Homo sapiens: one gene and its partners. The protein of the gene in region 2 purifies or fractionates together with the protein of the main gene of each other region. This does not show direct contact. Each region holds a gene or a part of one and is shown on either strand. Other genes may lie near its edges. The genes, in order: TRIM29, FBXL4, ACP3, PLCD1, SELENBP1, CUL1 and DNASE1L2.

Region 1 (4,770 bases), on a different chromosome or scaffold from region 2:
TCCTTTGGGGCCCACAGACAGAGACCTCAGGCAAGAGGAGAATCCCCGTCATGAAGCCAGCACTCCCCACGCCAACACCACCTCACATACATCCTCTCATAAGTGAACTGCTTTGTGAGGTGGGCTTGTCTCTGCCCTTGTTCCCAGGGGCTGTTTTTGCAAAGGATTAGCTGCTCAGCCTGGTGAGGCAAAGGGGCGGGGGCTTCCTAGCTTGACATGGATTGGAGGGGAAGGAAGGGAAACCCATTCCCCTCCACACAGCCCAGAACCTGCCACGCCAGCCTCACCTACTGTCTGCTCTGCCCTGCCCAGCCTGGCCTTGGAGAGGCACGGCCCTTTCCTTAGGGGTTTGGAGGCTTCCTAGGACCAGGTCAATGGGTCAGAGCCCAGAAGTGGCTGGGGGGCATGTCCTACAAGAGCTAAGGGTCCTGGTGTTCCGCAGGGGCCACGGAGAGGAAGGGGATGAAGTTTGTTTTTCTCACTTTTCTTCCTGAGGTCTGTATTTATATGATAGTCATATTTGAACAGGTGACTTCTGAGATTATCTGAATCTCACACTTTGCTGACCTCTTTTTGGAGGGCATTGCCTGTGGCCTGGCCCAGAGAGGATGGGCAGGTGTTTTCTGAGTCACACAGCAGACCAAGTGTGGAGACAGGTGAGAGTCAAGTGTTTGGGCCCTGAGGACCCAACCACCTGGGCTGGCATTGCTTGGATTCCCCTCATTGTTGTGCCTTGGTCATTTGAATCCACGCAGGTAGCAATAATCTAAGGTCTATATGTATCTTGTTGGGGCCATTGGGATAGGACAGACTCTCAGAAGCCATCTTCTGATGAGATATTCAGGTGACTCCATGACCACCCAGCTGAAGAAGGGACTTTGGCTTCTCAAAGGCTTAGGGTTCAAATCCCAGCTCGGCCACTTGACTTAGGCCAGTGAGTTATCTTCTTAAAGCCTGTTTTCTCATCTGTTAAAAAGGGGTAATTGAACAGGTTTTAGGGAAGCCTGAATGAGCTCGTAATATATGCAATACCTAGGAAAGTGCCTGGAGGTTGGCAAGTAGGGTTCAATACTCAGTAGCCAAATCAAATGGAACCCATCCTTCCCCCTTAAGGTGAAAAGCAGCGATACAGTCCCAGGGTGGACAATCTTTCCTCTGAAACTCAGGCCTGCAAATTACAAGGCTATTTGGCTTGTGTGACCCAGTTAACAGCCCTGTGTCTGGTAGGCCTCTGCAGACACCTCACCTTCTGCCCCAGGGGCCTCTGGGCTCAGTGAAGCCTGCCCACTTGTGAAGACGGAGACTCCCCGCTCCCCGGATGAGAAGCAAGTGCGTCAGAGGGAAGCAGCCCAACTGGTTGCTGAGTTGTGGAAAATAAGCTGGGGGAGAAAAAACACTTCTTTTAAAAATCAGGTTAGGGATGAATGTGCAGGGCGTGGTTCCTGTGCAATTATCTGCTCTGCTGGCTGCGGGGCTCCCTGCTTCTCCCGGGCCGCTGTGTCAGGCTTGTGCCTGTTGCTCCTCCCCTCCACTCCTCCCCCTCCTCCTCCTCCGCCTCCTCCCCCTCCTCCTCCTCACAGGTGTGTCTCTAGTCCTCGTGGTTGCCTGCCCCACTCCCTGCCGAGACGCCTGCCAGAAAGGTCACCTATCCTGAACCCCAGCAAGCCTGAAACAGCTCAGCCAAGCACCCTGCGATGGAAGCTGCAGATGCCTCCAGGAGCAACGGGTCGAGCCCAGAAGCCAGGGATGCCCGGAGCCCGTCGGGCCCCAGTGGCAGCCTGGAGAATGGCACCAAGGCTGACGGCAAGGATGCCAAGACCACCAACGGGCACGGCGGGGAGGCAGCTGAGGGCAAGAGCCTGGGCAGCGCCCTGAAGCCAGGGGAAGGTAGGAGCGCCCTGTTCGCGGGCAATGAGTGGCGGCGACCCATCATCCAGTTTGTCGAGTCCGGGGACGACAAGAACTCCAACTACTTCAGCATGGACTCTATGGAAGGCAAGAGGTCGCCGTACGCAGGGCTCCAGCTGGGGGCTGCCAAGAAGCCACCCGTTACCTTTGCCGAAAAGGGCGAGCTGCGCAAGTCCATTTTCTCGGAGTCCCGGAAGCCCACGGTGTCCATCATGGAGCCCGGGGAGACCCGGCGGAACAGCTACCCCCGGGCCGACACGGGCCTTTTTTCACGGTCCAAGTCCGGCTCCGAGGAGGTGCTGTGCGACTCCTGCATCGGCAACAAGCAGAAGGCGGTCAAGTCCTGCCTGGTGTGCCAGGCCTCCTTCTGCGAGCTGCATCTCAAGCCCCACCTGGAGGGCGCCGCCTTCCGAGACCACCAGCTGCTCGAGCCCATCCGGGACTTTGAGGCCCGCAAGTGTCCCGTGCATGGCAAGACGATGGAGCTCTTCTGCCAGACCGACCAGACCTGCATCTGCTACCTTTGCATGTTCCAGGAGCACAAGAATCATAGCACCGTGACAGTGGAGGAGGCCAAGGCCGAGAAGGAGGTAAGTGCTGGGGCCCCTCCTGCCCCTCCAGGCCTCTCCTCTCTCACCCCACCCCTCCGAACTTCATCTTCTCCACTCGGGCTTCCTCGGGTTTGGGGCTTAAGTTTCTACTGTCCTTGGCTCTTTTAGAAAACATTTATTTCCCCTCATGCCCCCTGTCCCCCCTAATCCCAGCTGGGGATCAGAGGTTGCTCCCCAATCCCCTAAGGTCTCAGGAGACAGGGACATTTTCTAGATGAGCGGATGGAGACTCAGAAAAGGTTGAGGGCCTGACCAAAGTCATAGGATAAATTCGAGTCAGGTTAGAGAGTATGACCCAACTGCATAGACCTCACTTCTGGGCTCTGTGCCTGGCTGAGGTGTTTCTTTCTTCTTCTTCTCCTTCTCCCTCTTCCTCTTCTTCCTCCTCTTCTTCTTCTTTTATTTTTTTTTTTTTTTGCTTTGAAGAAGAGATAATTCCTCCAACCTGAGTCGGACTGGCCCCTGGGGAATGGGTTGTGGGTGAGGAAAGATACTAGAAGGAGAGAATTTTGGGGCCCACTGAAAGGTCCTTCTTGCTGTCTTTGTAGTTTTTATTGTCGTACAGTGGCTTCTTGTTCTAGCTGATCCCCAGCTGGTCTCTTGACTTCCTCCACAGCCTCCTTTATCCTTCTCCCAGCTGGGCCCTGTGTTTTGCGTGTGTGGTTGTGTGTGGACACACATATTCCTGCAGGCGGACACCGTTGGGGAAGTTTGGAGTTTGTGTGTGGATGGCGTGTACGTGTACAGCTAGTCCCTGACTTAGGATGGTTTGATTTACAATGATGTGAAAGTGCTATGCTTTCAGTACAGTATTCCATAAAATCCAACACTTTATTACAAAATAGGCTTTGTAGTAGAAGATTTTGCCAAACTGTCGGCTAATGTAAGTGCTCTGAACAAGTTTAAGGTAAGCTAGGTTAAGCTATGATGCTTGGTAGGCTAGGTGTATTAAAAGCATTTTTGACCTATCACATTTTCAACTTACAATGGGTTTATTGGTAAATAACCCCATCACAAGTTGAGGAGCATCTGTATATGTGTTTATTTTATGTGCACGTGGGTGTTTTTGTGCCTTTGTGGATGTTTGCATGTATTCATATATGTGATACGTAAGTGTGTTTGCATGAGTTCTATGTGACTGTGCCTGTACTTCTATGGGGAGGAGCAGAGGCAAGTGCAGGCTTGTGGATGTAGCATACCTGGGGAAGGTGATTTGGGCAAAGGGCCCAGCTGTGGCCACTGCCCTTTGCCCCACAGATGTGGGGCTCACTCTTCCCTAAGGTACACAGCTTCCTGCTGTGGGTGGCCTTCCTGGGGCAAACCTTCCTGGCCTCCAAAGCAGTGAACTCCACTTTCCTGAAGAGCTTCTGCACACCTCAGATCTGGACAGCAGAGGATTCCTTCCTGCCCAGCCTTCCTGACCAGGAGGAGCTGGTTGATTACTCTTTCCCTTCATCTCTCACCCACACCCCTGGACAGAAAGGGCTGAGGTAGAGAGGGGAACAGACTCACAGATTCCTTCCAGAAGCCTCGTTTGGCCCAGGAAGAAGATGTTTCCAGCTTCCCCCATCTTCTGACCCCAGCGTGGCCTCAGGTTTCATACTGAGAGATATAGATGGGACGGGGCCATGAAACTCATTCTAGGGAGTTTACTTGGGAGGTTAGACAGAACAAGAGGCAATCATCCTCATCACAGCAGCTGAGAAATTGCAGAGCCTCAGACAAGGTTTTAGGAAATGTGACCGAGTTCCAGTCCCAGTTTTTGCCTCTAACTAACTGTAAGGCTGTGAATAAGTCCTTTCCACGCTCAGTCTCATTCTCCCAAGGGGTGAGGCTAGATTGTTGGTTTTCAAATTACCCCACAGAGCCCTGGAATTCTTAGACATGTCTTCGAGGCCTCAGGATGAGGAGGGGGTAAAGAAGTGTCAAGAAGGCGGAGCATTCAGGTTCCCACCTCGACTACAAGCAAAGGACATTCTTATTGATTATCTTCTATGTGGGTTTGGCCTCAAATTTGGTCTCAACCAAGGATATCTCTGCTTAAGCCTGGGCACCCCTGGAAGATGTGGTTCTGGTGGGCAGGAGGGTCTTGGGCAGCCCTATGTGGATGTGCCAGGAGCTCAGAGTTCAGAGTTCGGGTTCTGGCATGGGGGCCGCTGAGGGACTCACAGTTCTTCCTTGAGGGAGGGCTCATGATGTGGGTCAGGAGGCAGGGCTCATACACACAAACAGGACTGGGGAGCGCCCGTCT
Region 2 (4,019 bases):
ATGGGAAAGTCAGCACAGTGCTCTATGTATGTATACTGTGAACAGTTGCTTCATAAATATCACAAATCTAAACATTGCTATTATATTGACAGTCAACAATAAAATGTAATATGGAAAATGTAATATAGAAAAATGAGTTCAGTAGTCAGGCAAGGTTTGAAAACACTGGTTTTAGCAAAGGTAAACAGTTTCTTTGTTGTAGCACACACCATTGTAAAACTCTAAGACCAGGCTGGAGTGCGGTGGTATAACCATAGCTCACTGCAGCCTCAAACTCCTGGGCTCAAGCAATCCTCCTACATCAGCCTCCAGAGTAGTTGGGACTATAGGTTTGAGCAACCATACCTGGCTTCCTAATTTCATTAGGAATCTCCACTCCACCCCCAAATACACAGCCTTTAAAATTGATTATCCTTTAGAGGTAATTTTCCATGGGTCAACTCTGGAAAATGCTAACTTAAAATAATACAATTTCAATTATAAGCATATATATAATTCCAACAGTAAAGAGTCTATGGCCAGAGGCTTGATTTTCTAAGGAATGTTGCTCCAGTTTAAGGGGAGGTAAATAACAAGCAGAATAAGGTACATCTAAGCAAAGTTAAATGGTCCTTACCAATCTAAAGAGAGCAGGCTAGCAATAAGGAAGATCCAAGTGGCAGTAACTGGCTGGTTTGTTGTGACAGAAACTGCCATCAAATGTCATCGGGTCCATCAAGAAGAGTCACTGAAGAGACCCACAGAAGCCTATCAAATGGCTTACTATGGAAAGAATTTGACCAGAAGTGAGGAAAATCTAGTGGGCTCCCAAGACTGTTTCTAGAGACTGAGATGGCCTGAGCCCATACTTAGGGTTTAATAAGACCTAACCACAAGATTTTAAAGACCATGGGGACACAGAGATAAATATGTCATCAAAAGAGGCCTACTTAGTCTACACTGCCAAATCTTGAGGCATTTCTGAAGCCACACTGAGCTCTAAGAGGTGTTCAAATGGTACTCATTTTAGGTCAGGGACCCTGTCTATTGACTCTAATAAAATATTTCTCAAAATGTAAGGTTACTTAAAGCAAATACTCCCTAGCATACCAGAAGTTTTCTAGAATCTTGCAATCATTTTGCTAATTCAAGTCTTCCTACTAAGTGAATGCAAGGCAGAAATGGAATGGTCTGGGGATCTCCTAAACCTACATTGTTTTAGGGAACAGGGGATGAAGTGAGGAGGAATGAATTCTTCCAGTCAGTTACACTGGAAGATTCACTTACGGTATGTGTGCACACAAACACACACATGCACACCTTCTCCACACAAGATTTCTATTGTCCTTTATATCTCAGTATTATTTAAAAGCTATATAATTATGTGGTTTAGATTAAAACATTTAACTCTTTCCATGAGCTCTTTCAAGGGCACATAAAATCGTATTTTAAATCTGGAAGGACTAGGCTGGGCGCAGTGGCTCACACCTGTAATCCCGGCAATTTGGGAGGCCGAGGCGGGCGGATCACAAGGTCAGGAGTTCAAGACCAGCCTACCCAATATGGTGAAACCCAAGACCAGCCTGCCCAATATGGTGAAACCCAAGACCAGCCTGACCAATAGGGTGAAACCCCATCTCTACTAAAAATACAAAAAAATTAGCCGGGCATAGTGGTACATCCCTGTAATCCCAGCTACTTGGGAGGTTGAGGCAGGAGAATTGCTTGAATCCGGGAGACGGAGATTGCAGTGAGTCAAGATCGCGCCGCTGCACTCCAGCCCGGGCAACAGAGCAAGACTCCATCTCAAAAAAAAAAAAAAAAAAAAAAAAATCTGGAAGGACTTTGAAGCTTATCTAGTCCAACAGTCCCTAGGCTTTTATATTTCACAGACCAGTAAAATTTCCACACACAAAAAAGAGTTCCAACATAGGGTGTTAATCTTTCTGTTTTGACCAGTAAGGACAGTAAAACAAACACAAAAACAAACAGATAAAATAAACCTATCTATTATCATTAAAATTTCAAGAAAAGTATCTCAGGATTTAAAAGCTAAAATGAGCTTAGTGAAAAACTTACTGAACTATCGGCATTTAGGTATGACTAACACCTTAGTTTGTGAAGAAACCTAGAGAGGTGATTAGCTTGTCGGAGACAACATCTGGCTTGAGGCAGAACTATACTCTATTCCACCACACTATACTTCTTTCCTTGCTCTCATGGATAAATAATGTCAGTGTTTCAAAGACATACTTTCCAATTTAAGAAAAATGTTTGAAAGCAAGGGACAAAGAAGAGAACCATAAATCTGAAAAACTGTGGGTGTGTGTGGGGTAGGGTGAGTCAGGATACATTTCACCCATAGGAAGAAAAAGAGAACAAGTAATTGAGTAGTATAAAGAATTCTCAAACACTTACCATGACACAACTGCCTAAACTGAGGTGCTGAAGCTCTGAACAGAAGTTCAAAATGCTGAGCAGTGCTGTTTGCTGCCATTAGGGACCACATCAGAGGCAAATATGGAAAGTGAATGAAAGTGAAACAAAGAGAAGAGGTCAATTAGACATTAAAGGCTGTCACTGCTTTTCCTGAAATGCAGCTCAAAAGCTAGGTTACAGAGTCCACAAATGCCATTTAATGAGTCCCCAGAGGCTCCACCATTGATTGGCTTGGAGTCAAGGTAATCATTACTAGTCTCCATGTAAGTAATCACTTTGTGTATGGTTTTGGATGCCCTAAAGATACCTATATTCCCTATGACCTCTCGGTTCATTTCCCAAAGGTAAGCAATTTGAAAGTCTGGCTACAATTGAACAACAAGACAAGCTAAACCACTCCTCCCTCCAAAAACAAAAACAAAAAGACAAAAAACCCGCAGCAGGCTGGTGACACTCCTGAAGAATGGCTGCAGCTCTGACATTCACTGATCAGCTGCAGCTTGATGGAACTGCCAATAGAGTCACCCCAAATCAGGATTGAGCTGGTGACTTTAATGTCAAAGGATTCTCTTTGCTGACAAGGATACCAACAACCATTGAGCACCTGTCAGTAGCAACATGCTGACTGAAATATATATAATATGTACTTTCTAGTCATGTTCCTGCCATTTAAGCCCATCTATCCTGTGCAATGAAAATGGTCTCACCACTAAAGAAACCCAAAGACTGCTACATAATCATGGCACCCTAAAATATTTTTTTAAAAAAGTCTGCTATGAAAAATTGTGAAAAACAAAATAATGCAAAATATTCAAATTTCTAATTTTTCTTTTATCAATTAAGGAGAAAACTATTCAAACTTACATGGCAAAATATCTTATACATTTTTAAATATATTTAAAAATTAAGATATTATACAACTTCTGTAAAAATCTGTTCCAAGTGATCAGAAACTAAAAACTATCAGTTGAGGGAAAGGTGAAGAATGTGTCAATGAAAATGTAAAACATTTGGTCAAATCCCAGATAAAGATTCTCATTGAGAAAATAAAGTAATAAAATATTTCTCAAATGTAAGGTTACTTAAAGCAAAAATAATAATAGTTACAATAGGCCACAGAGGACTATTATACTTAAGTCTAATTATTTCATTATTGAGCATTTCTTTGAATTTAAACAAAAAAAGTTTATATTGATTTTATACTTAAGTTTCAACATAACAACATTTATAAAACAATCCCATGTAGCTCTCAGAATGTTAACATTAGAAAGGGTATATTAAGATAATTTAATTTTCAGGTTCTTCACAATACTTAGCCATGTTAACTAATTAACAGACAGGAACATAACATTAGGTTTGTTTTTTTTTTAATTACAGGACCATATCCATATTAAAAGGTTGTTTTATAAGATTTTCCCTTAAGTAAGATCCAGAGAATATTAGAATTTTTAGAAAGAATCTCATAAATTCTTGTTGGTAAGAAATTTTAAATTAAAAAATACACATACATAGAGATAAATACACACATACATATAATTCACACAACTTGTTTGGTAATTTATTTTTAAATTACTTACTATGAAGAATCTCAAATACACAAA
Region 3 (4,019 bases), on a different chromosome or scaffold from region 2:
CTGAAGTGGTAGTTGGATGTAGGTTTTCCAACTTCAAATTCAGCCCTCCTTCTAACATCACACTGCCTTTCTTTCAACTCAAGATTCCTCCTGGCTATTAAATTTGGATTATCTAATCTGTGTCCAATATAATCAATTTTATTTTCATTCTCTTTCTAAATATGAACTCTGGGCACAGAAGAACTGGCATTCTACATATTCACTCATGGTCGTGTTTTTGTGCTGCCTTCCTCTCCTTCCTCCCTCTCCTCTGAGGTCTGGTTCAAGTTCTCACTCTCTTTATGAAGACCTGAACGACGGCCCTGTGGTAACTGCACGTAAGTCTCATTCTCTGACTTCACCCAGCATATGTGGCTTGTACTTGAAATTATTGCCCGCCATCTTATAATGTCTTCTACACATTTCACACATGCTAATTTGCTTTCATCAAACTATAAATTAGAAAAACTTCGCCTCCTATTTCTCTACAGCATTCAGCACAGCTAAATGCTAGGAATAAGCTAGTGTTGATTGGTTTCATTAGATTTCTTAGTTGATATGAGAGAATTTTTTTGACCTTAGTGAATCAGATAGATGGAAGCCATAGGTAGATAATGTTCCTTGCTTCTCTCTTTCTCTCCCTCACTCTCCCTGTTTCTTTCCTCCTCTTCTACTAGCACCTGCATTCTCTTTCTGTGTAACTTAATTACTATCATTCAGGATTAATTGTTAAATAGCTGTTGTGGTCTACATTTTGCTAAATTTTGGTGCTGCTATCCAGTCTTTGTTTTGTTTTGTTTTTTATTTATTTTTGAGACGGAATTTCGCTCTTGTTGCCCAAGCTGGAGTGCAACGGTGCGATCTTGGCTCACTGCAACCTCCACCTCCCAGGTTTAAGTGATTCTCCTGCCTCAGCCTCCTGAGTAGCTGGGATTACAGGCGTGCACCACCATGCCCAGCTAATATTTGTATTTTTAGTAGAAATGGGGTTTCACCATGTTAGCCAGGCTGGTCTCGAACTCCTGACCTCAGGTGATCTGCCCGCCTCAGCCTTCCAAAGTGCTGGGATTACAGGCATGAGCCACCGCACCTGACCTCCAGTCTTTATCTCTGCAGAAAAGGCTGGTAAAGTGATTTTTTTTCTTTTTGGAATAAAATATTCACAAATGCTTAACACTGGTAATCACAATACTTCCCTCATGATTCTGTGAAGGAAAAGAGATGTAAATGAATCATCCTGTCTTTTCAAGAAACAGCAGAAAAATGGTTGGAGTAGATTTAACTCCAGTGACTTTCTACACAGCATTTGGGAAAAATCCCTAAGTCCCTAGATGCAGCAATTAAGTCAAATTTCTAGGGGTACTGGCAGGACAAAGAGGATAGTAACCTACCCCAGAGGTCACTGGGCAAAAGTCTGGGTCCAGCAGTCAGGCTAAGCTTCAGCCATAAAGAGATGCGATGGTCATGCCTATGATGGGACTGCAGGGAAATTAGGAAGGGATTCTTTGTCCCAAACTATTTCTTTCATATAGCCTTAAGTTTCACACCTGGAAGATTAGTTAGATTTATCTATTGCTACTTTAAAAATACCCATTCCTCTGAAAAGATTAAAGAAAGCTTGGTCGGTCCCAACCTGTGTAAACACGTTTGAGAGTTTCTCTCAAACAGCCCCATTCAGGCAGCTTAGTTTATAGTACTGGTTCTCAAACTTGCCTCCCCACTGGAATCATCGAGGGAGATTATTTTTCAAACACTGATGCCTGGGTCCACCCTCAGACATTCCGATTTCTTACGGAGAGTGCCCTGGGCATCAGGATTTTTTTTAAAAAACCACGTGATCCTAATATGCAGCTAAGTCTGAGAATCATGATTTTATAGGGAAGAAAATTGCTCTGGAATGAAATAGGCCTAGTTTTAATCCCAGAGTGATGCTTGCCAGCAGTGTTGCTTTGGACCAATTTGTTTGTTATTTAACCTCTCCAAGCACTTATTTCCCTCACTATAAAAGGAGAGCAAGAATATTGTCCATTCAGAGTTGTTATGAAAGGTAACACAATGATTCACATAAAATGTTAGGCAATGATTATGCACTCAAATCTTTTTTTCTCTACCTAGGAATGTGGATTTTCATGAGTGGAGGAGTGTTTGGTGGTATAAATATCTTTGGATAATCTGGAGAGTGGAGAAACCTGTTTGGGGCACCAAAAGCCTGGGAATTAAGGCAGAACACTGGGGGACTTGTCTATCTCCCTCTCCCTCTCTCTCTCTCTCTGTGTATGACGATGAGGGGGCAAATTGCCAAGAGTTGCAAGAGTGGCAAAACAAAGTGGATCATACAGATCCAAAGAGAAATTTGGTTCCTACTCTCTCTTAGCTAGGGTTTTCCATGTCCTAAATTGTCCTTTGTATCTTTATTTAAGAAAGAATTAAAACTGCACAGCTCAAGGAGTGTCCAGACTCCCAAATCCACAACTGTTGAGTAGCCTGCCTTCCTCATTCTAGGTCCATCTGAAATCTCCTGGTTTTCCCAGTATACTGACCTGATCTTCAGAAAGAGGAACTGTGTGCACCGGGATGGGCTGCCAGAGTAGGATAGGATTCCAGATGCTGACACCTTCTGGGGGAAACAGGGCTGCCAGGTTTGTCATAGCACTCATCAAAGTCCGGTCAACGTCTGTGCTTCGAATATAAACCTAGAGTAGGAAAATCAAAGCAGAAGCGAACGTAAAGGGAGCATGAGGTTTTTTTCTACAGAGCTGCCAAGGTATTAGAGAAAGGAAAGGACACCCACAGTGAAATATTACAGACATTGTGCTAACATCAGAATCATAATACTTGTTAAGGAATGAGCAATATTATGATCATGGTACAAAGCAACCTGGTTGGCCAATAGTTGAATTGACAAATGAGATCAATTAAGCAGTGGCTACTTGTCAAGCCAAAGTATTTATTCAGGTGTTCATAAAATCTTGAAATTACTCATATTCACAAACTTTTTGGAACAAAAATTTGCATAAAGAGGAATATATTTGTAAACAAGACCTCTGACTTGTATAAGTTCCTTGGAAAACAGGCAAAGCACTTTTATATATGCAGAATTATTTTAATTATTTCAAAGATCAAAGTTCCCACTCTTGGCTCCCCAACTTGCCTGTTCATGTTTATAGGACTCATTCAAGAATTTTCTATATCTCTTTCTTATATACTCTCCAAGTTCATAATGCTGCTCCATGCCCAGCTATGGGAAAAAAATAAAAGCAAAAATTAATGAAAGTAAGTTCTATGAATCACACTATCATAAAAATTTGTTGATTTTTTTTTTCATTATGTGTGTAGAATGAACAATGGTGTGGTTTAATAGTTCCACAATAATGACACATATTTAAGTGAAAACAAAAGAGCTGTACTCTTTAGTTACAGTTCCCTGACTCCCTGAGAAAACTCATTTATCTTCATTAGCACTTAACATAGAGACTTGCACATAGTAAGTGCTTAGTTGATAGTTGGGTGATTGATCTGATTTAAGTAAATGGTTCATCTCTGATGTAGTGGGATCCTTGTTGGTAGAGCATTCAAAGAGACCCACTTGGTGGGGATTTTGTGGAAGAAGCTCAACCATCTGATGAGATTAGACTCGATGAATCTGAAAGTCTCTTTCAACCTCTGTGGGCAATGCTTTACTATCTGCCCAGTTTATTAATTCCTGGTTCATAAAAAAATTAGAACATGTTACTCTAAGTGTGGTCTGTATTGGCTTCACTTAAAAGCATTATAGAAATCAAATTCTTGGGCCCCACCCTTGACCTACTGAACCAGAACCTTTGGGGGTGGTGCTCAAGAATATTTTTTAACAAGCTTCTGATGGACAGTAATCACTGAGATGCACTGCATTAGCTCAGTGGTCCACAACCATTACCGTGCATCAGAAACAAAATTATCCAGCGGTGCATGTTGAAATGCAGATTCCTCAGCATCTCCATCAGAGATTCCAGCTCATTAGTTCCTGAGTGGGGCCCTGACATCTGCATTTTAACAAGTCT
Region 4 (4,610 bases), on a different chromosome or scaffold from region 2:
GAGGAGCTGGCCACCCCAACTTGCTAAGAGCTCTGGAATCATCATCTCTTGGAGGACTGGTTTTTGGGGCAACCTAGAATTTCTATGCCCATTGGCGTTTATGTTCACAACACCCACTGTGAAATATGTACTGCTATCCCATGGATGATTCTCAGACCCACAGTAAGTAGAACCAAAGCTAGGACTGGAGCCCAGGTCTACTGGGGCCAAGATGAGGCCCCTCTATTTTCTGTTTTTACAAACGGCACCTCTTGCAGGGGTGGGGGCAAAAGGGATTGGGTGTAGGAAAAGTTAGTGTGTATGTGGGGGGTGTTCAGTGAGGGGAGGGCCCTGGGAGGTAATGTCCTTTGGGGCACATCGGGGGACCTGCTAGAGAAGCCAGTCCAGGCATAGCCAGAATAAAGAGTGGAAGAAGTAAGGTGAAGGAAGGAGGATGGATGCTGTCGCATCAGTCTGAGGGCTTCAGAGGCACTAGAAAGAGCTGGCTGGCTCGCTCTTGAATCTAGTTCTGGCCCTATTTTCCATGACTAGGAACTACCTTATGATGCCCCCATCATCTCCCAAAGAACTACAGATGGCAACTCATAGGGCATAGAAATTTGGGGAGGGGGCCTCCTGCAGGAACATAGTACTCACTGGGTACCAGGCACTGTTCTAACTGCTGTGTAGATATTATCTCATTCAATCTTCGTAGCAACCCTATGAGGTAGATGGTATTATCCCCCATTTTACAGATGAGGAAACTGACACACAGGGAAGTCAAGGGATTCATCTGAGATGAGAAAGCCAAGACTTGAACTCAGGTACTTTGCTTTCAGAATCTATGCCAGTAAACTACATTACTTCTGCATGCATCTGGGGTGAGGACAGAAGGGACATGTCACATCTAGGTGAGCCGCATAGCTCCCCAGGCCAACAGAAGGAGTCCCTCTGGGCTCCTTCCAGAGAGTGTGGAGCCCTAGGCCAGAGAGTGTGGTCCTGCAGCACATCCAGTGCTGGGGCACCCACACTGTGAAACGGATGCAGACTCTCCAATGCAAGTGTAGACAACCTGGAACAGCACAGGGCACAGTGATCACCCCCTCCCACCAACAATTCTCCTTGACAGGTTCTTATTTCCCCATCTGGTTTGCAGTGTGGACAGAAGGCAGTTGAGGTAATTTTGGGTGATGAGCTAGAAGTGGCAGGGCCTTCAGGGAAAACAGCTTGGGGTCACAGTGTTCATGTCAACCCTTCAGGAAAGGCTGGACTGAGTTAGGCATTTGGGAGGCTGGTCTCAAATGGGGTGGGCCAGGGCAGCCAAGCCTATGCCACAGGACTGGGAGGTCCTGACTGAGCCTCCATGTGTCTTCCTCCATGGAAAAGATATCAAGGCTGCCTCAGGAGAGAAACTGGACAAAGGCACAGACACTGAGGATGAAGCCTGTTCCAACAGGAGCCAAGGAATGACGCTGTGTCAGAGAGAAAGCAGAGATGTCCACTGTGTCCTCTCAGCTGCCCAGCCTCCCTTCTTGCTAGTCTGGCAGGCGCACGAAAGACACCTCTGGCCTGAAGAAAGAAGAGGGAGCACTGGAAGGGGCAGGGACTCCATGACTCATCTAGACAAGGTGGCTTTAAGGAGCCTAGGCTATTGGTGTAAAAGCAACAGCTCTGGGCACAGAGCAAGGTCTCTCTGGGCCAGGAGGACCAGGTCTGTGCCAACTGCAGAACACGAGATAGACTGGAGGCTGGCTGATGGGAACATCTCTAAGTCCCTCTAAATTCCAGGGGGACTCTAGTGGAAGGCTAGAGGACTCTGCCCTTCTCTTTCCCATCTATTATGTCCATGAACAGTTTAGATGGATGGGTGGTGGCCACTAAAGCCTCCAACCCCAAGGGTACTAAAAAAGAGAGGGATATACAGTAAAGCAGTGATTGGTATGAAAGGAGCAGGGTTTGCTGAGATGGCAAGTGACCTGGGAGGGCAGGAGGGCAAGCCCCCACCAAGAGTGAGTGAGTGCCTGTCCTGGAGCAAAGAGGCGCCCAAAGTTACCCTCCCCAACCTCCCGCCTCCCAGAAGGCCTCCAGATCTGCCTTCGGGAGCCCAGGCTCCCCTCGCTGCTGGAGGGACAGCGAAAGGGCAAAGAGCTGGCTCATATTGGAGGAAACAAAGCTCCGCTGGACAAAGGATGGAGCAGGCAGCTCCGGCTGAGACCTGGCCCTGTCCCCCGAGGAGGGTCGCAGATGAGGGGATCGTGCTGCTTCTTTCAGCCTGAGCATCGCTGACTATTCTGCGCTGGGCAGTTAAGGCTGCACGGCCCGACCACGGTTAACCTTGCACACCTCCTCTCCCCACCCGCTTAGCCCCTGCTCCGCCACACCCGCGCGGCCTGACGCGGTCCAGGCACGCCCAGGCTTTGGGGAGCCTCTGGGGCGGCCCGGATGGGGCAAGGAGAATTTTGGTCGTTCTTGGATGCTGTTTCCTTCCTTCGCCGCCCCTCCGTGCGAGCGGGATCGTGGAGCCCAGACTTTCATGACCAGGACAAGGGGGTCCGCGAGGCGGAGGGAAGTCTTTAGACCCGTACCGCCCGCCCACCCACCCCCCGGGCTAGATCTCGGACAAGCCTGGAAACGCCCAGGGTCGTGCCCGGCAGTCCCACCCAGGGAGCCGCGGGCTGAGATTTTCCCAGTCCGGAGAAGGGGCAGAGAGGCGGGCCCGGGGTGGTGTGGAGGCGGCCGAAGGAGCTGGGGGCTCCCTGTCCAGGGCCCGGAACAGCTTTCCAGGGGTCCACCCCTGCAGGGTCTCCCGCTCGCGCGGGCCAGGCACTCACCGTGCAGGGTCAGGAAGTCCCGGCCCGAGTCCATGCCCGACGGGCGGCGCGGCGGGAGGGGCACCGCGGGACTCACTTGAGTAGCGACAGCACCGGCGGCCTGGGGTCCGAGCGGAGTGCGGTGCAGGGACCTGAATGGACCGCGGTGGGAGGAGGCCGGGGGTGGTCCCGGGACACCGCCCCGCCCCCGCTGCCCTGCGCCCCCGCCCCCTGAGCCCGCCAACCCTCGTCTCTCCCCGCCCCCTTCTGGGGACGCGAGAGGGAGGGCAGAGCTGGGGGCCCGGAGGACTGGCCAACCCTGGCCCGGGCCAGCGGGCGCGCCCCGACCAGAAATAGCCAGATTCCTCCAGCTTCCTCCGCCGCCGCCACCCACGGGCCGCGGGCCCTGTCATTACCGCGGGCGGCCGGGCCCCACGCCCTGTTGTGGGCGCCTCGCTGGGGTCGGGGTGATGCTGGAAAGAATCCGGCGTCATCCCGGGGAAGGGATCGTGTAAGGTCCGACGCCCAGCCGGGCTGCTGCGCTAGGGAGACGCGGCGTCCAGGCTTCCAGCCGCAGCTCCCAGCGTTCGCATTCCCTTCTGCGAAATGGGTGCACGGACACGATTAGAAGGTCTTCAGAGAGCAATACCTGGACCTTGTCGGGAGGAGGGTCCCCTTCCCTCTCGCTGGGAGGTTTCTAACCCCAAGAGTGCCTTTGGTGGAGTGTTGGGGGTGTGGGAGGGGGAAGCAAGCAGGTGCACGGATTTCACTTTTGAGCCACTCATATCCCAAAACCCCAGCGATCCATGCAGCCGAGGGGGAGGATCCCCAGGGTCCCTTCTTCAGGTGGCCTCCCAAGGGGCTGTCTGGGCAAGGTCCCTATGCAGACCCACCCCCTAACTCTTGGGACCCAGAAAACCCCCTTTATAGGTTGCCCAGAGACCCCTCCCACCACAGACCCTGGGAGGGTCCCTAGATCCTGTTGCCCACCACCCCTTTGGAGAGTCCCTTGGGAAAACTGGGCTCTTGGTGTCAGAGAGCCCCCAGAGGGCCTCCCAGGAAGCCACCCAGGCCTCCTGGGCTGATAAGGCCAATGTGAGAGTCAGGCAAAGCTAGTTGGACCAGCTCTGCGGGGAGGGGGCTGGGCTCACCCCAATCCCTCCTCTTCTGGGCCCTAGGTGGCCTTGAATAAGGGATGTGAAACAGCTGAAGGACAGTCTTCTGGTTCTGGGGGTTAAAAGTGGATCAGGACTTCTGGGCTTTGGAGAGCCCCCTGCTCTGCATGCCCCCTCTCCACAGACGGGGCTTCACCCCTTACCTGGCACTCAGCTCCAATCCTGTCCTGCAGTGCGAACACCCCTGCCCTGGGCAGGCCTGTCAGTTCCTTCCTTGGTTTCCCTTCTGCCCAGGGCCACACTCCATGTTTGCTGAGGGATGAGCAAATTCATACTGGCAGGCATCACTCTGGACCTCCATACAGGGGATGAGTGGGGAAGAAGGGTCCCCTTCTCTGCCCTCTGGAGGCCTCCTCAGGCCTTGGAGCCTACCACTTGCACCTCTGATACTCCTGGAGCCTGCAAGCCCCTGTACTCAGCAAATCAGGCCTCCTCAAGCCCCCCTCCTCTTCCTAGGCAGCGTCACAGTGAAACTCTGACACCAGGAGTGGACATGGCTTCATCTCAGTCATCATTCCTATGTATTCACATCATCTCCCAACTCTGAGCCCCAGGCCCCAAGCCAGGACATTACCTGGGAGCCTCTCCTTTCCCTTTGTCTATGTACCATGGTGGGGATGCAGCCAGGCTCTTCCTTTGCATGCTC
Region 5 (3,470 bases), on a different chromosome or scaffold from region 2:
CTACCTGCCACCCTGCTTCCTTCCCTGTTCAGGGGGTTTTGTGCTGCTGGATGGGGAGACGTTCGAGGTGAAGGGGACATGGGAGAGACCTGGGGGTGCTGCACCGTTGGGCTATGACTTCTGGTACCAGCCTCGACACAATGTCATGATCAGCACTGAGTGGGCAGCTCCCAATGTCTTACGAGATGGCTTCAACCCCGCTGATGTGGAGGCTGGTGAGAATCCCCCCATGTGCCAGCAGGAGCCTTGGGCCTACATCCCCTTGCTTTCTGCTCCAAATCTCCCACCCCCACACTTCCCTCCTGTGGCCCCAGAATCTAAGAGAGATGGCATAGGATGTACCGCATGCTCAGATTGCTCAAGCGTCTTCCTGATCCCTCCAATCCATTTCTTAACCTTCTGCCCTGATTGGTGGCCCAGTCTTTGCCCATGCCTTCCAACCTCTGATGCTGAGCCTATCCTCCGGCCCCACTCCCACCCCAGGACTGTACGGGAGCCACTTATATGTATGGGACTGGCAGCGCCATGAGATTGTGCAGACCCTGTCTCTAAAAGATGGGCTTATTCCCTTGGAGATCCGCTTCCTGCACAACCCAGACGCTGCCCAAGGCTTTGTGGGCTGCGCACTCAGCTCCACCATCCAGCGCTTCTACAAGAACGAGGTGACATACGCCCTCTGGCCCTCCCCTCCCAGTAGTCTTGTCAGCAGCTCTACCTAAGCAGGCTTCTGTAACGGTGCTCCCAGGCGTCTCCAGGAACGAAAAAAATGAGGCTGCATGCCCTGTCTCTCTTCTCTCAGTGCTAGGGCAACTTCTGCCTGAACCCTAACTGGCCGTATTTATCCATTCATTCAAAAACTACTTAGTGAATGTCTGTGCTAGGCACTGTGCTATGTTCTGGGAATGCAGTGGTGAAGCAGACACAACCCCTGCCTCAAGGGGCTTGCATGGAGTTAGATCCTGCTGGCAAGAAGGCCGGGCATCTATTCTCTCCCTCCCAGGTCTGGGCAACCCAGATCTAACCCCTAGTCCCCAATTCTGATAGGCTGACCTCTCTGCCAGCTAACCTCACCCTCCACCCCTCAATGTAGGGAGGTACATGGTCAGTGGAGAAGGTGATCCAGGTGCCCCCCAAGAAAGTGAAGGGCTGGCTGCTGCCCGAAATGCCAGGTGAGTGCCTAGGGCATAGGAAAGTTGATTCTTGGCCTGGGAAACAAGAGTCCTTAAAGGCTCTACTCGCCCCCTGCCCACAGGCCTGATCACCGACATCCTGCTCTCCCTGGACGACCGCTTCCTCTACTTCAGCAACTGGCTGCATGGGGACCTGAGGCAGTATGACATCTCTGACCCACAGAGACCCCGCCTCACAGGACAGGTGGAGACCCTGGCAGGAGGAGCAGAAGGGAAGGAAGGAAAGAGAAGAGAAGCTGGGGATGGGGTGGATGATCTGAAGCAGCTGCAGGATGTTGAGGGAGGTGCAGGAAAAGCAGACATGTGTGCTGTGGGACAGCACAGGCCCAGGACTGTCCAGGCCAGGGATGGGCATGCAGAGCATGTCTGAAAGGAGAGAGGGGTTCCAGCCAGGCAAGCTGCTCTTCCTGCAATGTTTGCGCCTCCCACTATGGTCCTCCTTATACTCTGCACCTCCCCATCTAGCTCTTCCTCGGAGGCAGCATTGTTAAGGGAGGCCCTGTGCAAGTGCTGGAGGACGAGGAACTAAAGTCCCAGCCAGAGCCCCTAGTGGTCAAGGTAAGAGCCTCTCCCCCTACTTGCTGGACCCCTCAGACCCATGCTTGAGGAATATGTGGGGGAGCAGCTGAGCATACTCTTGGGGTTGGGGTGGTGCCTAGGATCTGTGTGTTACCCTGGGCTCTGACCCCTGGTTTTCCCAAGGGAAAACGGGTGGCTGGAGGCCCTCAGATGATCCAGCTCAGCCTGGATGGGAAGCGCCTCTACATCACCACGTCGCTGTACAGTGCCTGGGACAAGCAGTTTTACCCTGATCTCATCAGGTGAGAAGCAGACACATGGGCTCTCCTCCCCAGCCCTCCTCTTCCAGAGGGGTCATTTGGCTTTCTGAAGACTCCTCAAGGAGACCCCTGTACCCCACCACACAGATGGCCCATTGAGACCCTGGTCATTCCTCCTTCCTCAGGAGCTTTCCCCTAAAATCTTAGGGGAAGGGGGCAGCCACCTCTGACCTCTCCCTTACCCCATTCCCTTTTCCACCAGGGAAGGCTCTGTGATGCTGCAGGTTGATGTAGACACAGTAAAAGGAGGGCTGAAGTTGAACCCCAACTTCCTGGTGGACTTCGGGAAGGAGCCCCTTGGCCCAGCCCTTGCCCATGAGCTCCGCTACCCTGGGGGCGATTGTAGCTCTGACATCTGGATTTGAACTCCACCCTCATCACCCACACTCCCTATTTTGGGCCCTCACTTCCTTGGGGACCTGGCTTCATTCTGCTCTCTCTTGGCACCCGACCCTTGGCAGCATGTACCACACAGCCAAGCTGAGACTGTGGCAATGTGTTGAGTCATATACATTTACTGACCACTGTTGCTTGTTGCTCACTGTGCTGCTTTTCCATGAGCTCTTGGAGGCACCAAGAAATAAACTCGTAACCCTGTCCTTCAGATGGCCTTGTCTTTGGGGGCCCAGGGCCTGTGTCTCTTCTTCTGCCTACCCTTTGTATCATGCACAAGAAAGGGCTAAAGAGGCCTCCAGTGGGGGTTATGGTAACTAGTTCACACCAGTGATTCCAACATGATGCTAATAATGCCCAAATCTCAATTTTATGGCCAGACAAAATCTGAAAATTTTGGGGGTGATCGTCACAAGGAGACCTGGGGGTAGAGAATGTAAATCGGTGTTTCTAAAGTTTTGGTTTTTTTTTAACCCATGCTTTCTTTTAATGAACCTAAAAATCTCACCCATCACTCTCAAGAGAATGTAACATGCTCCCTCACACACAGGAGACCCCAGGATCCCTGTTGTGTATAGTGTAATATATTTCCACTGATGGCAAGACGACTGGGAGAACGCAGCTGTTGGGAGGTTTATCAGGCTGCTCTTGCATTGCTATAAATGCCTGAGACTGGGTAATTTATAAAGAAAAGAGGTTTAATTGGCTCATGGTTCTGCAGGCTCTACAGGAAGCATGACACTGGCATCTGCCCGGCTTCTCAGGAGGCCTCAGGAAACTTACAATCATGGCAGATGGTGAAGGAGGAGCACAAACATCACACGGCCAGAGTAGGAGCAAGAGAGAGAGAGCAAGGGGGGAGGTGCCACACACTTTTAAACAACCAGATCTCAGGAGAACTCACTCACGGTCTCAAGGATAGTACCAAGGGGGGTGGTGCCAAACCAGTCATGAGAAACCCACCCCCCATGATCCAGTCATCTCCCACCAGGCCCCACCTCCAACACTGGGAATTACAATTTGACATGAGATTTGTTGGGGACACAGT
Region 6 (4,019 bases), on a different chromosome or scaffold from region 2:
GGACTTGAATCTCACAAACTTCATTCAATTTTCTAAAATAAAATGTACACATCAAAACTGCAAATAAATAAACTTCTGAAAAATATAAATACAATGGAATAAAGAGATGCACACTTTAGGACTATTTTTCTTTTTGCCAAATCACACACACAAAGCCCAGAGTATGTATGCGCATATACGCAGTTTGGCCTGTACTCAATTGTCAGTAAAACAAATCCTCCTCTGCATTTTTGGCGGGGAAAGTACTCTTTTTAATGTGAAACTGTAGTTTCATTCACTGCCGCCAAGAGAGGCGTCAGAATGCTTTTTAGAATCACTTTTCCTATAACTATTAAGGGAATCACTATCCTAGTTACACATACACGCTCACCTATGTTTACCATAAAAAGCTATGTGGATACTCATCTTCCACAATATCCATATTTTTGAAACAAAACTTTAGTGTAATATATGGTTTGCTGGTTATAATCAGTGAATTATTTAATCAGTTTTCCACAAGTTAGCCTTATCAATAGAAAAATTCCAACATTTATAATTTATTATGGCAAAACCTCAAAGTTAACACAACTTCCGCAAATTGGTTGCTTTGTTGAAATTTTGCTAAATGTTGTTACTAGAAATCACATTCCCAGTTTGAAGAGCTGAGATAGAGACAAATACCCAGAACCAACATCCAGCTACTTTCAAGTGAAAATTGCAGCAGAGCCAGTTTTTTTAAAAAGCATGTTAGCATGATACACACAGCTAGATTTTCAGGATTTTTTTAAGCTTATGAAGATGAGATAGGATGGTTGTGGCAAAGGGCTGCAAAGACAAAGAGCAGAGCCCACTCTATCAAATGCTAGCAGCCCAATACCTGCCCTGGAGAGCCTCTGTAATCAAGGAAGCCAGGCAAGTCCTGAATGAAGCAGCAATCAGCAGCGCACTGCATCGCCAGGCGTGAGGGCAGAATGAAGCTGGTGACAGCGGGGCCAAAGAGGAAGGTATAAACACATAGTGTTATGGGGGAGGAACTAGTAAGATTTGGTAGATCACTGAATATGGACAAACAAAAGAAGTCAAGTCTGAAATCTGTGTCTCTGACACAACGCTAGAAATAGAGATGTCGGATATGGTCTAGGGAGCAAAAAAGAGATCAGTTTGGGGCAAGCCAAGTTGGAAGAAAGGCCAGGTTAGTCAAATGCAAAAGCCCTGAAGGCTATTAGCAGGACTGCAAGGCTCTCAGCTGAAGTTGCTGAGAATTGCTTAACCTGAAAAAACTGAGAAACCACAAAGCAAAAAAGACTAGAAGAGAGGATCAAGTTAAAGCTATCTCCTGAATGCTCATGAAGAGTTAGAAAAGATAAGATGAACTGGAACAGCAAGTATTCTGCACAGAACCCTAACCTCAGGAGGTCACCCAAGAAAAAAGAAAGGTAACCTGGTCCACAAGTCTGGGAAATGAGCGATGTGGCCCCTACTCAGAAGGGGACACTGGAGAACAGACCTGGTGATGCTTCCTAAACTCCTCTAACGCAAGACATCCTGAGAACAGCGTTCACCCTCTGGAAACCATGAATTGGAAATGCAAGAGAACCAATCTAATGAATCAAGTACAAATCTAAGAGTGCCTTCAAGAGAAGTATTGAGATGCTTTTAAAACCCAGGAAGTTTTAGATTTTTAAAGAAAAAATGTGAAACAACTTTGTAGTTAAACCATTATTTTACAGGTTTAAAAAGTGTTCTCCATGGACACCGGGAAGGGCACAACACTCACTGGGGCCTGTCAGGGAAGGTGTGGGGACCAACACCAGGGAAAACAGCTAATGTATGCAGGGCTTAATACCTAGGTGATGGGTTGATCGGTGCAGCAAACCACCATGGCACACGTTTACCTATGTAACGAACCTGTGGTACCCTGAAACTTAAAAAAAAAATTATTATTTAAAAAAATAAAAAGTGATCTCAACATGACACCACCAATAACATGTAAATGACACAGGCTTTGATTGTGTTGTCTCCCATATGCTTTAAAATTTTTTTAATATAATTCCTCTGATAGTATTTAGGATTTAAACAAGGACTAGGGTGAAGCAAAAATTATTTCTAGACACTAAACTTATAACCATACTCATTAGGATCCTGGCCTCTATGGCACTTCCCACACTGTGCTACAAAGAACCACGAATATTTCCAGGTGCTCGTTCCAAGAGAAAAAAATGAACACATCAATTCACTCCATATCAAATCTCTACTGTAAAGACCTAATTTTCCACATTCGATGATTTTAAAATCAGTATGTGTTCTACAAAACATGTTAATATGGTAGGGGAGTTTTCTTCCTTCAAAGGTAATTTCTTATTAAATTAGGAGTGGACCTTTTAATATATATGAATGTAGGTATGTATACATATATACATACCCTATAAGATATATCTCCCTGTAACAGCAGCAAAACAAATTAAGATTTTAAAGGCCCTTCAATATGCCACCTGGCATTTCCTACGTTTATTCACAGATCTTCCCTCCTATTCCCATACCTTACATATCACAGAACACAGACAGCCAAATATTGGCCTAAATAAAAATCCTGAAAATGCAGTAAAACAAGTAGAGTAGTAAGGCAGAGCTCCATTATAAAAATACCAGTGACCAAAACAAACAAAATCTTCATAATGTCGAGAGAACACATACAGTACGTTTCACCTGTAAAGCCCCAGCTAAACTGCAGACATTAAACACCCACCCCGCCCCCCGCCGCCCCCACCCCCAACACACATACCCTGTATAGGGCAAAGTCCCCTATATATAGAACATGTAACAAAGGCACTACTGAAGAGCCAATTTCAGTATGTGTCTTCAGCATTCCTAACCCTTCTTCCCTTTGTGTGTTTTGAGTCCCTTGTTGGTAGGACCTACTCTACACAGATGCCCAAGTAGCCTTTCATCAACACATCAAATAGGAGACCCTCTCATTTCAGTAGTCTCTACTTTATGATTGATGTAATATATTCCCATGCTGTGTGTCAAAGTCCATCCTCAACCAGGACTGCATTAGACAGCCTTCTGTCCCATTTGAGGTATCTCCAAGCAGCAGAAAGCTGAGGGCAAGCAGCTAGGGAGTCACAAAGCAAGCTCGGCACAGTCTTTGGCTCATACCAAGCACTGAACACAAATTGAGTATCCTTTATCTGAAATGCTTGGGTCCAGAAGTCTTTTGAATTTCAGACTGTTTCATATTTTGGAATATTTGAGGTATCTTGCGGATGGGATCCAAATCTAAACGGGGAATTCACATGTTTCATATAGACCTTATACACACAGCCTGAAGGTAATTTTACTTTCCCCTTGGGGACACTGAATAAACTGTTGTGCACCTGCATGTTGACCGTGGCCCATCACATGAGGTCGGGGTGAAATGATCCACTTGTCACATCGTGTTGGTAACTAAGGAAGTTTTAGATTCTGGAGGATTTAGGATTTTCAAATTAGGGATGCTCAACCTAGACTAAGGGTTATTATTGCATGTAAGATAAAATGGCAAGCAAACGTTTTAAAGATTTTACGTATTTAAAATGAGAGAAGTCAGAAGAATCAGTCTGGAATTTTTCTTCTCCACCATCCCCCACACCAAAGTCTCCAAGTTCCTATAGATAAGCTTGAAGTTTGGGGAGGGGGAAATGGCCTAGTCTTCATGTCTATTCCCTGAATTCCACTTGGGATCAAAGAGTCTGGTTTATTGACATCATCTAGGATTCCAAACCTTTCCTTCCAGTCTCACCAAAGCCTCCTTCCTGCCTTGAGAAAAGGAGGTCTGAGCTGTCAGCCTTTTTCCCCCGTTCTGACTTTCGGATGCCTATTAGGCACACGTAACTATTTTAGTTAGCATTTAATTAATTTCGACATAGCAAAGGTGCCCCCTCCCAGCATTAGGTGACACGTTTCTGTGCAACGGTTTTCTCATAATTACAACAGTATTCCTCATTTGTACTATTTAGCATACACTTCTTAAATAATTGATGGTAGCCTCTGAATTTTCC
Region 7 (4,712 bases), on a different chromosome or scaffold from region 2:
ACCTGCGCACCAAAGGTCTGGGCCGGTGGAGGTGGGAGGGGGAGGGGAGGGGGCCGGGGCTTGCCTAGCCCTGACCGAGTCCCCACCCACAGGGGGCTGCCTGCTGGAGGTGGAGGAGTTGCTGGTGTCTGAGGACAGCCCCGCGGCAGCCACCACCGTCCTCACGGAAGACCCGCACACAGTGTTGGTGGAGTTCTCGTCCGTGGTAGCTGACACCCAGGAGTATATCATCGAGGTGGGTGTGGGGCCCTGGGGCCGTGCTGGGACCCAGGGGCAGCCAAGGCTGACCTCTGTCCTTCTGCCCATCTGCCCAGGCCACTGCGGACGATGCGGAGACCAGTGAGGCCACGGAGATCATCGAGGGCACCCAGACAGAGGTGAGGGGTAGGGCAGGCGGGGGCGGGGAGGCTCCCTGGCACAGCCGCTCTTGCTGAGCCGTGGCCCTGCAGGTGGACAGCCACATCATGAAGGTGGTGCAGCAGATCGTGCACCAGGCTAGCGCCGGCCACCAGATCATCGTGCAGAACGTCACCATGGACGAGGAGACGGCGCTGGGCCCAGAGGCGGCTGCCGCCGACACCATCACCATCGCCACCCCCGAGAGCCTGACAGAGCAGGTGGCCATGACGCTGGCCTCGGCCATCAGCGAGGGCACTGTGCTTGCCGCCCGGGCAGGGACAAGTGGCACTGAACAGGCCACTGTGACCATGGTGTCATCAGAGGACATCGAGATCCTGGAGCATGCAGGCGAGCTGGTCATCGCCTCGCCGGAGGGCCAGCTGGAGGTGCAGACGGTCATCGTCTAGCATGAGGTCTGCGGGGTCCTGGCCGGGCAGGGACAGGGCAGAGGACTCTGAGCGCCCCACCCATGCCTGCCTGGCCTGGTAGAGAAGATGGCACAGGATGGAGGCGCCCCAAGACGGACAGTGTACATAAGAGTTTCTTGTTGCTTTACAATAAAACATGAGAACCTGCAGCTTGTGATGTTGTGGCAGTGGCAGCCTCCGCGGCTGGTGCCACCACCTTTGCCCAGGCCCCCGCAGCAGCACCTGCCTCCCAGGCCACTCCTAGACTCACGTGCCTGGCCGCCCCACCCAGGGGCTTCTGCCAGCCCTGGCGGCGCCTTGGTGCTGTGTGGGTGTCATTGGCATGTTGACCAACAGCCTCCTGCCCTGCCCAGCTGGAGCTGTGCCCCCAGCTGCGCTGCCTGAGGCCTGTGGGTGGGTGGGAGGACCAGGGACGGGGACAGGGAGATCTGGGAGCCTCGGCCTCCACCGCAGGGTGAGCAGGTGGAGCAGCAGCAGGAGATGCTGGGTAGGGAGTGTGGCTGGTCCTACCTGCGCTGCCTTGCTTTCCCTGAAGGGATTCTGCTCAGGGAGGCAGAGTCTAGGCGACCTAATTTCTAGGGGCGAGGACAAGAACACAGCCGCACCGGGATGTGGCTGACCGTCTACCTCCCTCCTAGGGGGCTGGCAGGGGCTTCTGGGACGGTTTTGGGACAGGTCTGGGGCACCAGAACCGGCTCAGGCAGGTCTCCCACCCCTTACCCTGGGGGTCTCCATGGGAATGAAAGCCAGGAGTTCATCAGGCACCCAGCTGAGTCGAGGGGGCGGGACCCAGTGCAGCCCGGCCCCTCCCTGGCCCAGGACCTCAAATACCGGCCCCTGCCTTGGTGCCAGAGCTACTGCCAGAGGGAGTCAGTGCAGTCCTGTGTCGGACACGCCCGCAGCCTGGACCCGGGATCCCCATCCCCCTAGGATCTCTGAGCCTCGGGCCTCTGCACCCACATCCAAGGTGAGTCTCTCGGCTGCCCTGAGCTGGGGCTGGATGGGCCGGACCCTCCATTCCGGCTGCAGCTTCCCGCGCAGTGAGAAGGCAGCGGTCCCTGAGAGCCCAGCAGTGCCCTGGGAGCCTGCAGAACGCAGGGGCGGATTCCGCGTCGCACTGGCCGTCAAGGGGCGGCCGCGGAGGGAAGGGGTGGGTCGGTGGGTCTGACAGCGGGTCTGCGTAGGCGGCAGCGTCTGTCCCTCCCAGCCTCTCGCTCCGCGCCATGGGCGGGCCCCGGGCTCTGCTGGCCGCACTCTGGGCGCTGGAAGCCGCCGGGACCGCCGCGCTTCGCATCGGAGCCTTCAACATTCAGAGCTTCGGTGACAGCAAAGTGTCGGACCCCGCTTGCGGCAGCATCATCGCGAAGGTGGGGCCCGGGCCGGGGCGGGGCGGCGTTTAGGGGTGCTGACCGCGCTGACCCCCGCACCCGCCGCTCCTCCCCAGATCCTGGCTGGCTATGACCTCGCGCTGGTGCAGGAGGTGCGAGACCCAGACCTCAGCGCCGTGTCCGCGCTCATGGAGCAGATCAACAGGTGTGGTGGGCAGGGCCCCTCGTCGCGACCCCCCGCCGGGATCTCGCCCCGGCGCGGCGCCCCGACCCTGAGCGGGCCCCTGTCTCCGCAGCGTGTCCGAGCACGAGTACAGCTTTGTGAGCAGCCAGCCCCTGGGCCGGGACCAGTACAAGGAGATGTACCTGTTCGTGTACAGGTGAGGGGCGGGCCGCAGGGAGGGGCGCGCGGGGCCGCAGGTCGGGGGCTCAGCGGGTCCTCCCCATCTCCTAGGAAAGACGCGGTGTCGGTCGTGGACACCTACCTGTACCCAGACCCCGAGGACGTCTTCAGCCGCGAGCCCTTCGTGGTCAAGTTCTCGGCCCCCGGCACCGGTGAGCGGGCCCCGCCCCTCCCCTCCCGCCGAGCTCTGACGCCCCCACCCCTTCCCGCAGCAGCACAGAACCTGGTGCTGATCCCGCTGCACGCGGCGCCGCATCAAGCCGTGGCGGAGATCGACGCGCTCTACGACGTGTACCTGGACGTGATCGACAAGTGGGGCACCGACGTAAGCCCACCCCTCGGTCCCGGGGTCCCTGCAGGCGCGCCCCGGGGGTCTGGTTCATGAGGGCGGGACCTCGACGGCTCCTGCGGCGGCTCAGACACGGCTCCGCGGCGCCCGCAGGACATGCTGTTCCTGGGCGACTTCAACGCCGACTGCAGCTATGTGCGGGCGCAGGACTGGGCCGCCATCCGTCTGAGGAGCAGTGAGGTCTTCAAGTGGCTCATCCCTGACAGCGCCGACACCACGGTGGGCAACTCAGACTGCGCCTACGACCGCATTGTGGCCTGTGGCGCCCGCCTGCGCCGGAGCCTGAAGCCCCAGTCGGCCACCGTGCACGACTTCCAGGAGGAATTCGGCCTGGACCAGACTCAGGCGAGTGGGCCGTGGGGCGGTGCTGGTCTTGGGTCCCCACCGCCCGGGCGCACGCAGGCAGCAGGGAGGGTCCAGCGCCCAAGGCAGGGCCACCTCAGCTTCCTCCCTGCACCAGGGCTCGTTTCCAAGGACCCTGGAGAGCCCGGCCCACCCCATGTGGAGCTCTGGGCAGGCAGGGTACCTTGCCTTTCCCTCAAAGGGCCAGTGGTGACACCCTCTGCCCCGGCCCCTGCCCCTGCCCCACCGCAGGCAGCAGCAGGGGTGGGCACCCAGGCCTCACCGGCCCCTCCCATCCCTGTGGGTGGGGTGCACTTTTCCCCTGAGGCTCACTCTGTCCCCACAGGCTCTTGCCATCAGCGACCACTTTCCAGTGGAGGTGACCCTCAAGTTCCACCGATGACTCGAGGCCTGGCTGGGGCATGCCACCTGCAGACCCTGGCTCTGAGGAATGGCCCAACAGTGGCCCCTTCAGGGTGGCAGCCACCCTTCAGTGAGGCCCCAAGGCAGAGTCGGCTGGGCGTGGACCAGGGGCCATGGACACGTGATGTGCTGCTCTGTACCTCCGTTCCCCATCTGTGGGACGGGCTGCATCCAGCGACCTCATGGGGTGTTGTGAGCCCCATGAGGGGTGCAGGGGGCACTGCCCGGCAGATGTCTGCTCAATAAATGAGCTGCTCCCGGTCGGGCCCCACAGCTTGGCTCCCAGGCCTCTGTCCTTCCTTAGGACCCAGCCTCAGCTCCTTAGGGGCAGCCATGGCCTGGGCTGCCCACCCCATGTCCTGGTGGGACGTGGCTGCCCCCGGAGCCTGCTGGCCCCAGAAGGCAGCTCAGGGATGCTCCTTGCTCATCCTCTGTGGAAACTACAAACACTCCCAGGAGCCTGTACTGTGAGCACAGCTGGGACAGGGATGGCGCCAACACACCAGCCTCCTGGGCCCTCGGGGCTCTCAGAACAGCTCTCCCCAGGCCCACCCCGCAGCCCCCATTCCAGGGCCCTGCAGGGGCCCCCAGGCACTTGTCTGTCTCAAGAGCCCGGTCTTACCCAGCACTGCAAGGGGAGGCCAGCCCCAGCTAGTCAGCAGCCCTGGAGCTTTTGGAGAGCCTGAGAGCAGTGGGCGGGCTGGACTCCTCCCTGCCCAGGCAGGTGGCTTGGGACTAAGGTCCCGTGCAAAGAACCGCCCAGCTCGCCGTGGCTCAGCCCTTCAAGGCTGCTGCCCTGTGCCTGGGCAAGGACACATTAGGATAGGGAAAAGGCAGGCCCACGGGTCCACTGGGTCACTGACTGGGGCCCGATGAGGTTTCTGGTTTTTGAAACATCACATCTTAGCAAGATGTGGTAACTTGGTCTGAATCGCATGGGAGGAAAAACCTTTGTTTCAAGGGTTTGGATGAGTTTGGTTCTTGCAAAATCCTTCTTAAGGGACATTTGGATCCCTGGCAGCACAGCTGCCTCCAGAGTC

The links.
Region 1: the proteins of FBXL4 (region 2) and TRIM29 purify together in Homo sapiens (affinity purification with mass spectrometry; 2 studies listed by BioGRID and IntAct, with this or other methods). This does not show direct contact.
Region 3: the proteins of FBXL4 (region 2) and ACP3 purify together in Homo sapiens (affinity purification with mass spectrometry; 2 studies listed by BioGRID and IntAct, with this or other methods). This does not show direct contact.
Region 4: the proteins of FBXL4 (region 2) and PLCD1 purify together in Homo sapiens (affinity purification with mass spectrometry; 2 studies listed by BioGRID and IntAct, with this or other methods). This does not show direct contact.
Region 5: the proteins of FBXL4 (region 2) and SELENBP1 purify together in Homo sapiens (affinity purification with mass spectrometry; 2 studies listed by BioGRID and IntAct, with this or other methods). This does not show direct contact.
Region 6: the proteins of FBXL4 (region 2) and CUL1 purify together in Homo sapiens (affinity purification with western blotting; 4 studies listed by BioGRID, with this or other methods). This does not show direct contact.
Region 7: the proteins of FBXL4 (region 2) and DNASE1L2 purify together in Homo sapiens (affinity purification with mass spectrometry; 2 studies listed by BioGRID and IntAct, with this or other methods). This does not show direct contact.

What each region holds. Positions count from the first base shown.
Region 1 is NC_000011.10:120,134,956-120,139,725, reverse strand, and holds the start of TRIM29 (tripartite motif-containing protein 29), read left to right. Parts: upstream 1-1,612; 5' UTR 1,613-1,694; coding exon 1,695-2,498; intron 2,499-4,770.
Region 2 is NC_000006.12:98,878,156-98,882,174, forward strand, and holds part of FBXL4 (F-box/LRR-repeat protein 4), read right to left. Parts: intron 2,470-4,019; coding exon 2,398-2,469; intron 1-2,397. UniProt on the Homo sapiens protein: Substrate-recognition component of the mitochondria-localized SCF-FBXL4 ubiquitin E3 ligase complex that plays a role in the restriction of mitophagy by controlling the degradation of BNIP3 and NIX mitophagy receptors.
Region 3 is NC_000003.12:132,330,845-132,334,863, reverse strand, and holds part of ACP3 (prostatic acid phosphatase isoform PAP precursor), read right to left. Parts: intron 3,218-4,019; coding exon 3,131-3,217; intron 2,673-3,130; coding exon 2,520-2,672; intron 1-2,519. UniProt on the Homo sapiens protein: A non-specific tyrosine phosphatase that dephosphorylates a diverse number of substrates under acidic conditions (pH 4-6) including alkyl, aryl, and acyl orthophosphate monoesters and phosphorylated proteins.
Region 4 is NC_000003.12:38,026,696-38,031,305, forward strand, and holds the start of PLCD1 (1-phosphatidylinositol 4,5-bisphosphate phosphodiesterase delta-1), read right to left. Parts: upstream 2,948-4,610; 5' UTR 2,845-2,947; coding exon 2,811-2,844; intron 1-2,810. UniProt on the Homo sapiens protein: The production of the second messenger molecules diacylglycerol (DAG) and inositol 1,4,5-trisphosphate (IP3) is mediated by activated phosphatidylinositol-specific phospholipase C enzymes. Essential for trophoblast and placental development.
Region 5 is NC_000001.11:151,363,467-151,366,936, reverse strand, and holds the end of SELENBP1 (methanethiol oxidase), read left to right. Parts: intron 1-32; coding exon 33-215; intron 216-483; coding exon 484-662; intron 663-1,090; coding exon 1,091-1,169; intron 1,170-1,252; coding exon 1,253-1,374; intron 1,375-1,655; coding exon 1,656-1,748; intron 1,749-1,892; coding exon 1,893-2,011; intron 2,012-2,231; coding exon 2,232-2,394; 3' UTR 2,395-2,633; downstream 2,634-3,470. UniProt on the Homo sapiens protein: Catalyzes the oxidation of methanethiol, an organosulfur compound known to be produced in substantial amounts by gut bacteria. Selenium-binding protein which may be involved in the sensing of reactive xenobiotics in the cytoplasm.
Region 6 is NC_000007.14:148,705,403-148,709,421, reverse strand, and holds part of CUL1 (cullin-1), read right to left. Parts: intron 1-4,019. UniProt on the Homo sapiens protein: Core component of multiple cullin-RING-based SCF (SKP1-CUL1-F-box protein) E3 ubiquitin-protein ligase complexes, which mediate the ubiquitination of proteins involved in cell cycle progression, signal transduction and transcription.
Region 7 is NC_000016.10:2,234,767-2,239,478, forward strand, and holds DNASE1L2 (deoxyribonuclease-1-like 2 precursor), read left to right. Parts: upstream 1-1,677; 5' UTR 1,678-1,794; exon of another isoform or gene 1,795-2,011; 5' UTR 2,012-2,050; coding exon 2,051-2,194; intron 2,195-2,271; coding exon 2,272-2,360; intron 2,361-2,451; coding exon 2,452-2,535; intron 2,536-2,609; coding exon 2,610-2,883; intron 2,884-3,000; coding exon 3,001-3,252; intron 3,253-3,595; coding exon 3,596-3,652; 3' UTR 3,653-3,945; downstream 3,946-4,712. Other genes in the region: transcription factor E4F1, read left to right, coding at 1-15, 93-235, 315-377, 450-806. UniProt on the Homo sapiens protein: Divalent cation-dependent acid DNA endonuclease involved in the breakdown of the nucleus during corneocyte formation of epidermal keratinocytes.